Linked DNA regions of Homo sapiens. The protein of the gene in region 2 purifies or fractionates together with the protein of the main gene of each other region. This does not show direct contact. Each region holds a gene or a part of one and is shown on either strand. Other genes may lie near its edges.

Evidence for each region.
Region 1: the proteins of CNOT2 (region 2) and FHL2 purify together in Homo sapiens (affinity purification with mass spectrometry; 2 studies listed by BioGRID and IntAct, with this or other methods). This does not show direct contact.
Region 3: the proteins of CNOT2 (region 2) and TNKS1BP1 purify together in Homo sapiens (affinity purification with mass spectrometry; 5 studies listed by BioGRID and IntAct, with this or other methods). This does not show direct contact.

The regions. Positions count from the first base shown.
Region 1 is NC_000002.12:105,396,910-105,400,659, forward strand, and holds the start of FHL2 (four and a half LIM domains protein 2), read right to left. Parts: upstream 2,143-3,750; 5' UTR 1,933-2,142; intron 1-1,932. UniProt on the Homo sapiens protein: May function as a molecular transmitter linking various signaling pathways to transcriptional regulation. Negatively regulates the transcriptional repressor E4F1 and may function in cell growth.
Region 2 is NC_000012.12:70,246,353-70,250,102, reverse strand, and holds part of CNOT2 (CCR4-NOT transcription complex subunit 2), read right to left. Parts: intron 1-3,750. UniProt on the Homo sapiens protein: Component of the CCR4-NOT complex which is one of the major cellular mRNA deadenylases and is linked to various cellular processes including bulk mRNA degradation, miRNA-mediated repression, translational repression during translational initiation and general transcription regulation.
Region 3 is NC_000011.10:57,304,288-57,308,037, forward strand, and holds part of TNKS1BP1 (182 kDa tankyrase-1-binding protein), read right to left. Parts: intron 1-3,750.

The DNA.
Region 1 (3,750 bases), on a different chromosome or scaffold from region 2:
CTCAGGCCCGGTGCTGACAAAGGAGGCTGCCTGAGTCACTGAGGCTGAGTAACTGGCCCTCGGCACAGGACAGGAGTAAACTACTCCTGATATCTAGTCTGTTTTTTTTTTTTTTTTTTTTTGGCAATATTCTATTGGGCGTTTTTGACTGCAATTTAAATATCTTTCAGTACTGGAAATGGTTTAACACGCAATCTTGGGTCAAAGTATGCATCATAAGGCCTCATAGAAATATTCAAATGTTAAAAAAAATAAATAAATATTCAAATGTTCCTCCCGTGGTGCGTTTAGTGGTTAGAACTCAGGTTCTCCAGTTAAGCTGCCTGGGGTCAGATCTCAGGGCTACCATTTACAGCCCGGGAAACCCTGAGTTAAAGTTACTTTGATCTCTGTTTTCAGTGTCTTTACCTGTAAAAATGAGGCTATCAAATATGTATACACTGTCTATGATGTCCAGGCTTCTTAACAACCCTAACAAAAAGACAACATCATTGTCCCTGTTTCCCAGTGGAGAAAACCGAGACACTACGAGATTAAGTGACTTGGCCCAGGCTGCACAGGTTGAGGGACCCGGATGTAAATTTAGGCAGCCTACATGCAGTCCCCGGCATCCCCTAGCCTACTGCATCTGCCTGTGGCTATTTGTGAGACGGTGAGCTAAAATGAGACAGAACCTATGTGCCCAGAACAGTTTCTGGTCTGTAGTAAGCCCATCATTAGCCTTCATCGACATGTTATGGTGTAAACGCATTTTAAACCATGGCAGGCTAATAAACACCGTGGAAACACAATTCTGTGTATTAACTGATGATCTTCTAAACTGGGGGGTGATCTAAATCCAGTAACACTTGACAAAATTTTATATAAATGCACAATGAAATGTTCTTTGAGTTTGGTTTTATTAAAGTTTAATTGATAGACTAGGAATTCCTGTACTTCTAAGACTTGATGCAAATGGTTTTTGTTTTTTTGTTTTTTGTTTTTTTTTGTCTAAAACATCTTCAGGATAGTGCAAAACCTCTTTTCTTTAATATATTATTATAAAACACTCATTAGTAGAGTCAGCACCAAAAATGTGAGATGTATTGGGAGTTGTGTTTTGAAGACAGTTCTCCTGATTCTAAACCCAAATTGTGATTTATTACCTTCCAAAATATGTGGAAGGGAGTGCGGGCCTTAAGTTCAGTGATGTCTAAGTACACTGCTGCTTGCAAGCCAGCTACACATTTCAGCTAACCGGATTAGCCTACTTCCAGTTAAAACCCGACTGAGGATATGAAAATAAATATGACTGATTCATTTAAAATCAGAAAAACACTCAATATTTTCTTCCCTCTATTTCTGGTATGCTAAGATATCACACGAGTGCGACTTAAGAAAAACTTAGAATCTTTTCATTTAAAATAAGCCATTTTTGTTTTAACCGAATGGTTCAGTTATTAAATGTCTACCTGAGTCAAGGAGCGAGGTCACACTGCAAACTCCACTTATTTCTACTAAAGGGAAATGGCCCGGACTCCCCCGCGCAGACCACCGTGCCAGGACAGCCCGCTCGGGAGTCGGGCCTGGAAGCAGGCGGACAGCGTCACCTCCCCGCAGCCGCCGGCTGGGACCCGCGGCCAGCCTTTACCCAGGCTCGCCCGGTCCCTGCCCGCATGGCGGTGCCCCACCTGGTGAGGACGCGGGCTGCAGTCCTCCCTCTGGGGATGAGTCGGTGGGCTCCTCTGAGCTCCAGCGCCCCCAGGGTCTAGACCCCTCCCATTGCTCCGCTCCCCTCTCCCCGTGGTCTCCCCACCCCCAACCCCCAGGGTTCGGCTCTCCTCTCCCGGGTCTACCCCACAGCTCAACTCCTTTCTCCCGGCTTCTCCCCGCACGGTTCGGGTCCCCTCTCCCAGTGGTCTTCCCGGACCCACAGCTCTGCTCTCCTCTCACCAGTCTCCCCAACTCCGGCTCTGCTCCCCTCTCCTTGGGTCTCGCACCGGATTCGGCCCCCACTTCCGAGCCCTGGTGGCTAAGCCCCTCGGCCTCCCTCCGGGGCGCAGGGGGTTGGAGGTACTCACGGCACCGCAGCGGGCCGGGGACTCCCGGACGGGGCTGGAGGGCGCGGGCGGCTGGTGGCTGCGGCTCCGCTGCCGGCCGAGTGGAGCGCTGCGCAGCTCCCGCCCTCGAGAAACCCCGCCGTGTCATTTGACCATATAAGGAGATGCACGCCTCGGCTCGCTGGCACCGGGCGTGGGGCGCGGGGGGCGGGCGCCCCCAGGCCTCGCGGTTGCCGTGCCCCCGCCCCGGGCTGCGGCGGTCCCGGCCCGTACCCTTTGTTTGCCAGGGCTCCTTTCTTCGTGCCCTCCGGGTCTTGGGAGCACAGTAGTTATCGGGAGCGTCGCCTCCGGCGTGGGCTCTCGGGCGCGAGTTTCGGACGAGGCCTGGGCGCGGTGGCAGGGGTCTGCCCACGCCGGGATCTCTGCCTGGTCCCAGGAGCGGGAGACTGGAGAAGCCCCAGGACGTGCCGGGGGAGGCGGAGGGAGGAGGGGGTCACTTCTCAGGAGGCATGTGCCTGGGATATATTTGCAAGGTGGACGTTTTTCCTTCTTACCCTGCAGATGCTTCTTTACGAAATGAACACCACAGATGACCATAAAGAATCCTTCGTTCCACTACGGAGGGGACTAAAGGAAGGTCCTATCCCCACCTCTCCCTCTCGGGGCCAGAAGACTAGTTAGACATCTTGGATTCCCCTCCAGGGCGGGAAAACCAAAGTGAGCTGGGAGCGTGCCTCCCACATTCCAAGCCCGGGCCCTCTGCGTGACGCTGACGCTGGGTAGGGACAGATGGCACTGTTCAGCATTGTCGCAGGGAGAGCACAGGTTGAGCCCATCCCTGGGAGAGGGTGCGTCGTGATGGAAACATTTGCTCCTGAGCAGGTAACCGGTCCACTTGCAGAAACCGGTGGACGATGAGTAGGTGGACCACAAAGGCGTCCTCGGCACTTTGGGGGCAGGTGTATTATTTTTAACATTCGGGGCAGCTCATAGGAATACATCCTCCAGAGAAGGCGGGAAGAACTCCGTGATTGCTTTCTTTTAATTGATACTCTCCGTCTGGTAGGCCTCATGGGTCTCCATCATGGAATCACAGAACTTGAGAATAAAGGGGCTTCATCACCTTAGCTTCCACTCGGTGAGCACTAGCTCTACCTGGTATCTCATTTGATCCACACTCCTTTAAGGTAAAGATTTTTACCAGATTTACGGTGAGGAAAGTTCAGCTCAGATTTGCTCCAGGCCACGTGAACGGTAACTGTGCCAGCTGAGATTTGAACTGGGATGTGGTAGATGGCAAAGCCATGTAAGTATATTACGGGATCAGAAATGCCTCTCATCCCTCAGTCACTCAGGTGACTCCAGAGGACTGAGACTTGCCATAAGCCCAGCCAGAACTAGATGTGCGGAATACAGCCCTCCCCCGACCCCACCCCACTGTGTCCCTGAAACAGGACGCTTTCCTGAAGAACCTGAGTTAAGGCCACCCTACCTGAATTTCCACTAAGTGTCAAGACAGGCTAGTATTTTGAAATTCAGAGCAAAGTTTGTGTAGAAAAGGCTCCCAGCCCCTGACAGCTACCTAGATGTGTTGTTGATATCGTTACAAATTAGGAAATGGTCTCCTAGTTCTCAAATGGTGAGTCTTAAGCTTCAGTTTGTAAAAACAAGCCCTAAAATGATGAAACATTAATTCTGCATTTATCTTCTT
Region 2 (3,750 bases):
AAGTGCATTGTATACCAAACTTAAACACTTTAAAGACTATCTCAGATGTCAGGTTAACCGGTTTGCTGTAGCAAATAGTTTGGCCTGACATAAATATACCTAGAATTTCTCATAAGCAAGCATAGATTAGAAAGATTATGGCTCCAATTTTTTTTCTAATTTCAGGCCAGACATGTTCATTCCCATAAAAACTACACCCCTAAAGCATTACTTTGTGCAGTAATCTGTTCGGCATATGATTACCTCAGAATAATGGTGCAATAATATGTAAAGTGTAGCATCAATGATATGTTATTACCTATTCTCATTATAACACAGTATTTGCTTTTAAGTTTTTAACGTTTCTCAGTGAATGTTTCTAATTTTTAAAAATATGAGCAGCTGTTGGATATTGTCAGAAAAGTCAAGCTTGAAACAAAAATTTCCTACTGCTGCTTGTCTTTCAAACTTCTGCATCAATTTGATTAAATATCCAGGATCTGCAAGATGATCAGATGCAAACAAAAACAAGTCTTCCATTAACATCTATTTGATTTAATAAATCACGATTTTCTCTATAAAGTAGCGCTAAAATAAATGAGAAAGAAATTAGACTCTGAGTCCAGTCTGAAGATGAAAACGGCCTTCATAATTCCCAACTTCTAATTTTCTTATTGACCAAAATAGCTTGTTTATAAACATAAATGCTAAGTTTTAAACTTATTTTAATATATATAAAATTAAGATAATGTATATAAAAGTCCTCTCTGCAAGCTGTAAAACATTTTAAAAATATTAAGTAGCAAAGCCAAAAGTAGTCAGGTGCTTGGAATGGCATAGTAAACTTAATATTTTATTTTACTGACCTATGAAAGATTCTTACAAGCAGAAAACTAAATACAAAATTTGTATGCAGGATAGGCATTATAATTTACAATGTAGAAAGTAATACAAAAGCACATTCTTGCCAGATATGACACAAAACCAAATGCTCCTCTCTCAAACACATTGTATTACATAATCAGTCATTACATTTTGTCCAGATGCTAATACAAACTGGAGCTGTTTCAACATCTGAATACACAAATGGAAAAATAGTATATCAATATGTTTGAAAAACAAGCAAGTCTACTCACTGTTACCTAAATTGCCAGGATACATAATTTTCCCTCACTCATTTTATCATTAGTTTTTACTAAGTTTTAGTAAAAACTTACTAAATGTGCATTTTCATCTACTCACGTATAAGGAAAGACATTTCCATTCAGAAAAGGCAGAGAAAGGACTGGTGTCCTGAGTACTGGATCATACTCCCTTTTTAAAAATATACACTCTGTATCTTTGGCAGCTCTTAGTCACTAAAAGGTCTCTGGAACATATACAGGCAATTAAGACATAATATTCCTAAAATCATTATCAATATTAGCATATCTACTAAAATGCAATTCTGAGAGTCATCTATCCTGTTTTGATTTCTACATCTCTAAAATGGGCAGAAAATTGGCTCACAATCTCTTAAACAAACCTATAAAGGCCAGATGTTTCTCAAAACACAGTTTCAGATTTGAGAAAGGTAAAATGTTGTATGTATCATATATGATGTAACATCTGCCAATGGCAACACCTGCAGTCAAACACGTGAACATTTCCATATGAAAATGTAGGAAAATCAGATTAAGAAAGATAATAATAATCAAATTCACAGGTATAATTCCAGTTGATATTTTCTCACCTTGCTTATTCAAAACAAAACAAAAGAAATGATCAACTTTCAGAGCTTTTTAAATTTTGGACCTCCAATAAGACACATCTCACCTTATTTCCATAAGGGCAATTTTATTCAAACTAGAGAAATCCTGCTTTCTACTAACCAATGGGCCAGGCATTAGGAGGAAAAAGGTGAGAAAAACAGAATCTATCTTCAGAAGCCCCAAATCTAATATGAGCTCATGGGTAAGTACTGGTAAACATGATACCTTGTAAAGACAAATACAAAATATCTCCTTCACATAATAGCCATAACCATACAAAATACAGCGAGAAATGCAAGAAATACAGATCTAAACATCCTGCCAGAAGCAAAACAGGGTATTAATCACTCTATTACTAACATCCTTCCCTAATTCCATACTAACTTTACACACACTTCCCTAAGAAGCTAGTTATCTATTTTTCCATATGTAATTAAGAAGCAAAACTGTAAGAAAGGATTCAAGGAAGTGAAGGAATACAGGAAGCTATTCTCCCCACCACTTTTCCAATCTGTTGCTTCAGATCTGTGGATTGTGAAACAGCACTGTCAAATGACAATCTAGCAACAGTTCAGTTTAATAGATACGTATTGAGAACCTATTAAGTATTATGCACTATAGAGGCATTCAAAACATAAACATAAACAAGTCAAGGCCATACCTCTCAGGTGCTCCCAGTCCAGATGGACAGTAAATTACAATACAGTGTGACATTCTATAATAGAAGTTTGAAGAGTAAAAAGCAATACAGCAAAGGATTTGGGGAGTCAGGAAAGATTTATGAAGAAAGTGATACCAAAGAGGAGTATGGAAGAAGTTCATCAAACAACAGAGAAGTGAAAGATACATAAAATATGCACTACCACCTGCCCCCCACACACATACATGCAATAACATACACATGAATAAAAAGAATAGGACGGGCGTGGTGGCTCATGCCTGTAATCCCAGCACTTTGGGAGGGTGAGGCAGGCGGATCGTCTGAGGTCAGGAGTTTGAGACATGCCTGACCAACATGGTGAAACCCTGTCTCTACTGAAAATACAAAATTAGCTGGGTGCATGCCTGTAATCCCAGCTACTCAGGAGGCTGAGGCAGGAGAACCGCTTGAACCCGGGAGGCGGAGGTGGTAGCGAGCCAAGATCACGCCATTGCACTCCAGCCTCAGCGACGAGCAAAACTTCGTCTCAAAGAAAAAAAAAAAAGAATAAGGAAAAGAAAATGTGCAGGGTTAAGTGGCAAATAGTCCAAAATATCTAACTATATATCTAAGTGGACTTAGATCCTGAGTCTACGCATATACAAAACCCTGAAGTGCCCAGAAAAGGAAAAATTTCCCATTTTTTCCTAAATAATTCACTTTTTTGTATTTCCATATTATATGTCATAAGCTCTTGACAAAAAGCAAACATTGTAAACTGTTTTATTACTTTATAATGCAGCACACCCCCAAGGGATATACCAACAGATACCAACAGATTTGCATCTGTATTTCAGAGAACAAGCTCTCAGAAAACACAGTACAAATTCTATTTCCAGGACATTCCTAATAGTATAGACAAAGAAAATAAATGAACAAACCACATCAGCATGATTAGTCATAAGAGTTGAATTCTAAAATAGAAATCAAAGGATGTCAAACAGAAAAACCAAAGAAATAAAAACCTAACTTTCATTCCACTTCAAGGCAAACTTTCTACAATGACATCAACTTTAGCACAGCTCTTTTCAAAATATCTGATATAAGTCACAGTGAAATTCAATCCCTTTAAGTATCACAGGTAGAAACTGCTCTTAGTAAGGAAGAACAGTCACCTGTATCATCAAGCAGAATAAGTTCTACCATAGCACTAGATCTCTTGATTAACACTGTATGTAATTCCACTCAAACATTACAGTACACCTCATATTAACTCTGCCCCTAAACTGCCCTACCTGGTACCCTGGATATTCTGCCTCTTTGTGTTACAAAATCCACTACAGATCCAGGTAACAAATAACATCATAAATGTTTGGTGGT
Region 3 (3,750 bases), on a different chromosome or scaffold from region 2:
GCATGAGTGGTAGTCTGTCCTTCCACAAGCTGCTGACAGATGGAAATTAAAGTGGTCTGGGGAGAGACATTGGGGGAGGAGGCAGTGGCGGCAGCAGAAGTACAGCAAGGCAGCAGAATTGGGAGCAGCCCTGGCTGGGGGCCAAAGCCAGCTCACCCTGACAGCCAGCTTAAAATCAGGGAGAATTTGGAGGGAGGGGGTGGCAACAGCACCCCACCCAGACTACAGAGGCCAGGCCCAAAGCCTCTCCCTGGGGTGGGGCAAAAGAAGGCTAAGGGCAGGCCCCATGAGCTAAAGAGATGTGAAATGCCCTGGCTCACGCCTGTAATCCCAGCACTTTGGGAGGCCAAAACAGGCGGATCACCTGAGGTCAGGAGTTCCAGACCAGCCTGGACAACATGGTGAAACTCTGTTTCTACTAAAAATACAAAAATTAGCCAGGCATGGTGGCAGGCACCTGTAATCCCAGCTTCTTGGGGGAGACTGAGGCAGGAGAATCGCTTGAACCCGGGTGGTGGAGGTTGCAGTGAGCCAAGACCGCGCCACTGCACTCCAGCCCAGGCAACAAGAGCAAAACTCCGTCTCAAAAAAAAAAAAAAAAAAAAAAATCCACTCCTAAAGCGAGAGGTGGCCCAAGCCACTCAGGCAGAGGTCAGTGAGCTCTGGAGGTGGCCTTGAGGAGCAGAGAGTGGCGAGTGGGGAAAACCCAAGAAAGTGCAGCTACGTCCACCCCGCCGGACTAAACCCCACTCGCCCTTCACCCCATCTTAGAAGCAGCTTTCCTACCCCTAAGCACCCAGATCATGTATAAGCTGAGCCCCTCCCGGCATGGGAGCAGGAAAGAGGGGTAGTTAGGAACACAGGGACTGAGTCCTGCCACTCCAGGACACAGCTAGGCTCTGTCTCCTCCTATGCCTGTGGCTTTGACCACAAGTTATTTGTCCCACTCTGAACCTCAGTTTATCTGTAAAATGGGGATAATAAAAGTACATAAACTGTTCTAGTTTGTTGGCAGAAATATGTGCCTAACACATAGTTAGCACTTGACAAATACAACAAATTATTAGGATAGTCATTATCATCCTCAACACGGGTCCCTGGCCAGAGAGGATGTGCCTCATCTTGTCGCATCTACACCCTTCACCTGGTCTAAACTTTAGAGTACCCTGAGGACCAAGACGGTATCCCACCCCACCCTCCACCACTGCTCCAGAGGCAAACATGGCGCTGGAACTACAAAACGTGAATATCCCAGTGTTCTGAGACCTGAAATGAGGGAGGGGTGAAGCTGGAAAGATGTGTCTAGAGAAATAGCAGCTGACCTTGACCCCAGAGAGACAGGGAGGGTGCCCAGAGAAGACTGCACGGCTTGGGCCCAGGGAGACAAGAAGAACCCACAGCCACCAGCCGTGGGAACCGGTGCAAGTCACACTGCCTCTCTGGGTCTCAGTTTCCCTAGTTTTTGTGAGGAACAATTAACAAAACCCCATGAGTACTGGGAGTAAGTTACTCCCAACTTACAGACGAGGAATCGGAGGCCCGCAGAAGAGAACAAACTTGCCCAAGGTCACAGAGGTGGTGACAGAATCAGAACGCAAGCCTGGCAGATGGACCCAGAGCCAGACCCCTCTGAGCTATTCTCAAGGACTTCTCGTTACAAAGGGAACCTCCAAAATTTTCTTTAAAGAGAAAGTGCCCATAGTGGGCCAGGCATGGTGGCTCATGCCTGTAATCCCAGCACTTTGGGAGGCCGAGGTGGGTGGATCACCTGAGGTCTGTCTGGAGTTCAAGACCAGCCTGGCCAACATGGTGAAACCCCATCTCTGCTAAAAATACAAAAATTAGCCGGGCGTGGTGATGTGCGCCTGTATTCCCAGCTACTCAGGAGGCTGAGGCAGGAGAATCGCTTGAACCCAGAAGGCAGAGGTTGCAGTGAGCCAAGATCGCACCACTGCACTTCAGGCTGGGAGCCTGGGCGATAGACCAAGACTCCGTTTCAAAAAAAAAAAGAGAAAGTGCCCATAGTGTAGAATTTCCCTACATCAGAATTTCCCTGCTCAGAACACTAGGTTCTTGGACATTAGCCAAATTAGCTTGGAAAATACTGCATTACTTGTCTTTAAGGTACTAATATATGCTAATATACAGACTAAGTCTTCTGTACGGCCACAGAGTACCCAGCATTTTCCAAACATATTCACAGACTGGTATTCTTTAGGACACATTTTAGAAAAGGCTGCCCGAAAGCATAAAATTCAAACAAGCCCCTCGAACTCCTCTCTAAAGCAACTGTTTTCGTTCGGCTTTTTGAGGAGCCGTGCTTTCTGTTAGGAGCCACGCTTTCTGTTGCATACAATGAGGCTCACCTGTATGGCATCACGGCTAACCCCTGAACTCGGGTTAAAGTCAACACTGGCCAGATTACGGTAACACAACCACAAAAGCCTGGGTGTTTTAAAGACACAATGATGACACTATCCTCCTCTTCCCCTAACCTAGTCCCATCACAATCCCCGCCCCACCTCCCTCCATCCTAAACTAAGGGAACAAGATGATCACTTTCCACTTCTTAAGAGCCACCCCACACAGAACGGAAAGGCAGAGAGCTGTGGTGGTGGGGGGGGGGGTTGGGTGGGAGGGGGGCAGTGGTCCCACAGTGGCCACACCTGAAAGCAGTTAACATATACAAGTGAGAAAGAGGTACTCCTGACTCTTTGCCCTTAAGGGGTCACACCACCTTTCGACCCTCCAGCGGAGAGGATAAAAATCACTTTCCTGCTTCACAGAGCAGCTGTGAAGATCAATGAGGTAAGACGTGTGGTTAAGCATGGGGTGTGCAAAGTTCTATGAGTCCCAGGAAGAGAAATCAGGAACAACCACGCCAAGCCTGGACTCTCCCCTGCACCAAGAACATTAAAGCTGGAACTCTGCACTTCCTGAGTCAAACCCTGAGAAACTGAGGCTCAGAGCCCAGCAACCTGCCCAGGACCACAAGGGCCTCCCAACTCCTAGTCCTGCGCCCTCCCCTCGTCCCTGCAGTCCTCAATGCAGCCTCAGTGGTTCCCTGTGCTCCGTCACCACCCCGTCAACAGCCTGAGTCGTCAGGAAGCTCCACTTCCTCAAATCCCCCTGGGCATCTCACTGGGCCCATCTTCCTCTCTCCCTTCTCCTCCTCCATCCCAAATGCCTCTCCAGAGTCCCCAAGACCACCATGATATGCTCTAGCCCCTTCCTGCTCCTCTCCTCCCACCACCAACCCCTTCCACTTATAAAAGCCCCTGCCCCACACTTCCCTTGCCTTCCCCACATACCCAGTGAGAAGCTCCCACTGTGGGGCTGGAAAAGGTAACATTTTCTGCTCACTAAAGGGAATAAAAGCGAATCTCAATGGATGGAAATGTTAACAAAACGGATGCAATGCCTTTTTAGCACGTTTCTCAGCTGCAAAACCATCTCAGCTGGTTTTAAAACATCCATGAAACAGACTGTGCTTGCCTTGCAAAGCCTTTGGAAAGTTCTTTCAGCAAATTTGCACAGAGGCCAAGGTCATGGGGCCAGGTCCCCATACCCTTCAGGTTCTTGAACTTGCTATTCCAGGCTTCAAGACAGGACAGGCAAGAAGCACCAAGTACCTAACCTCTTTGAGAACCCGTGGGTTCCACTGTCCACTCCACTCCTGGCTGTGGTGGCCCCAGCCAAGAAGACACGGAATTCTCTGCCCTATACCTATGAAACCACCTGTGGCTTCAG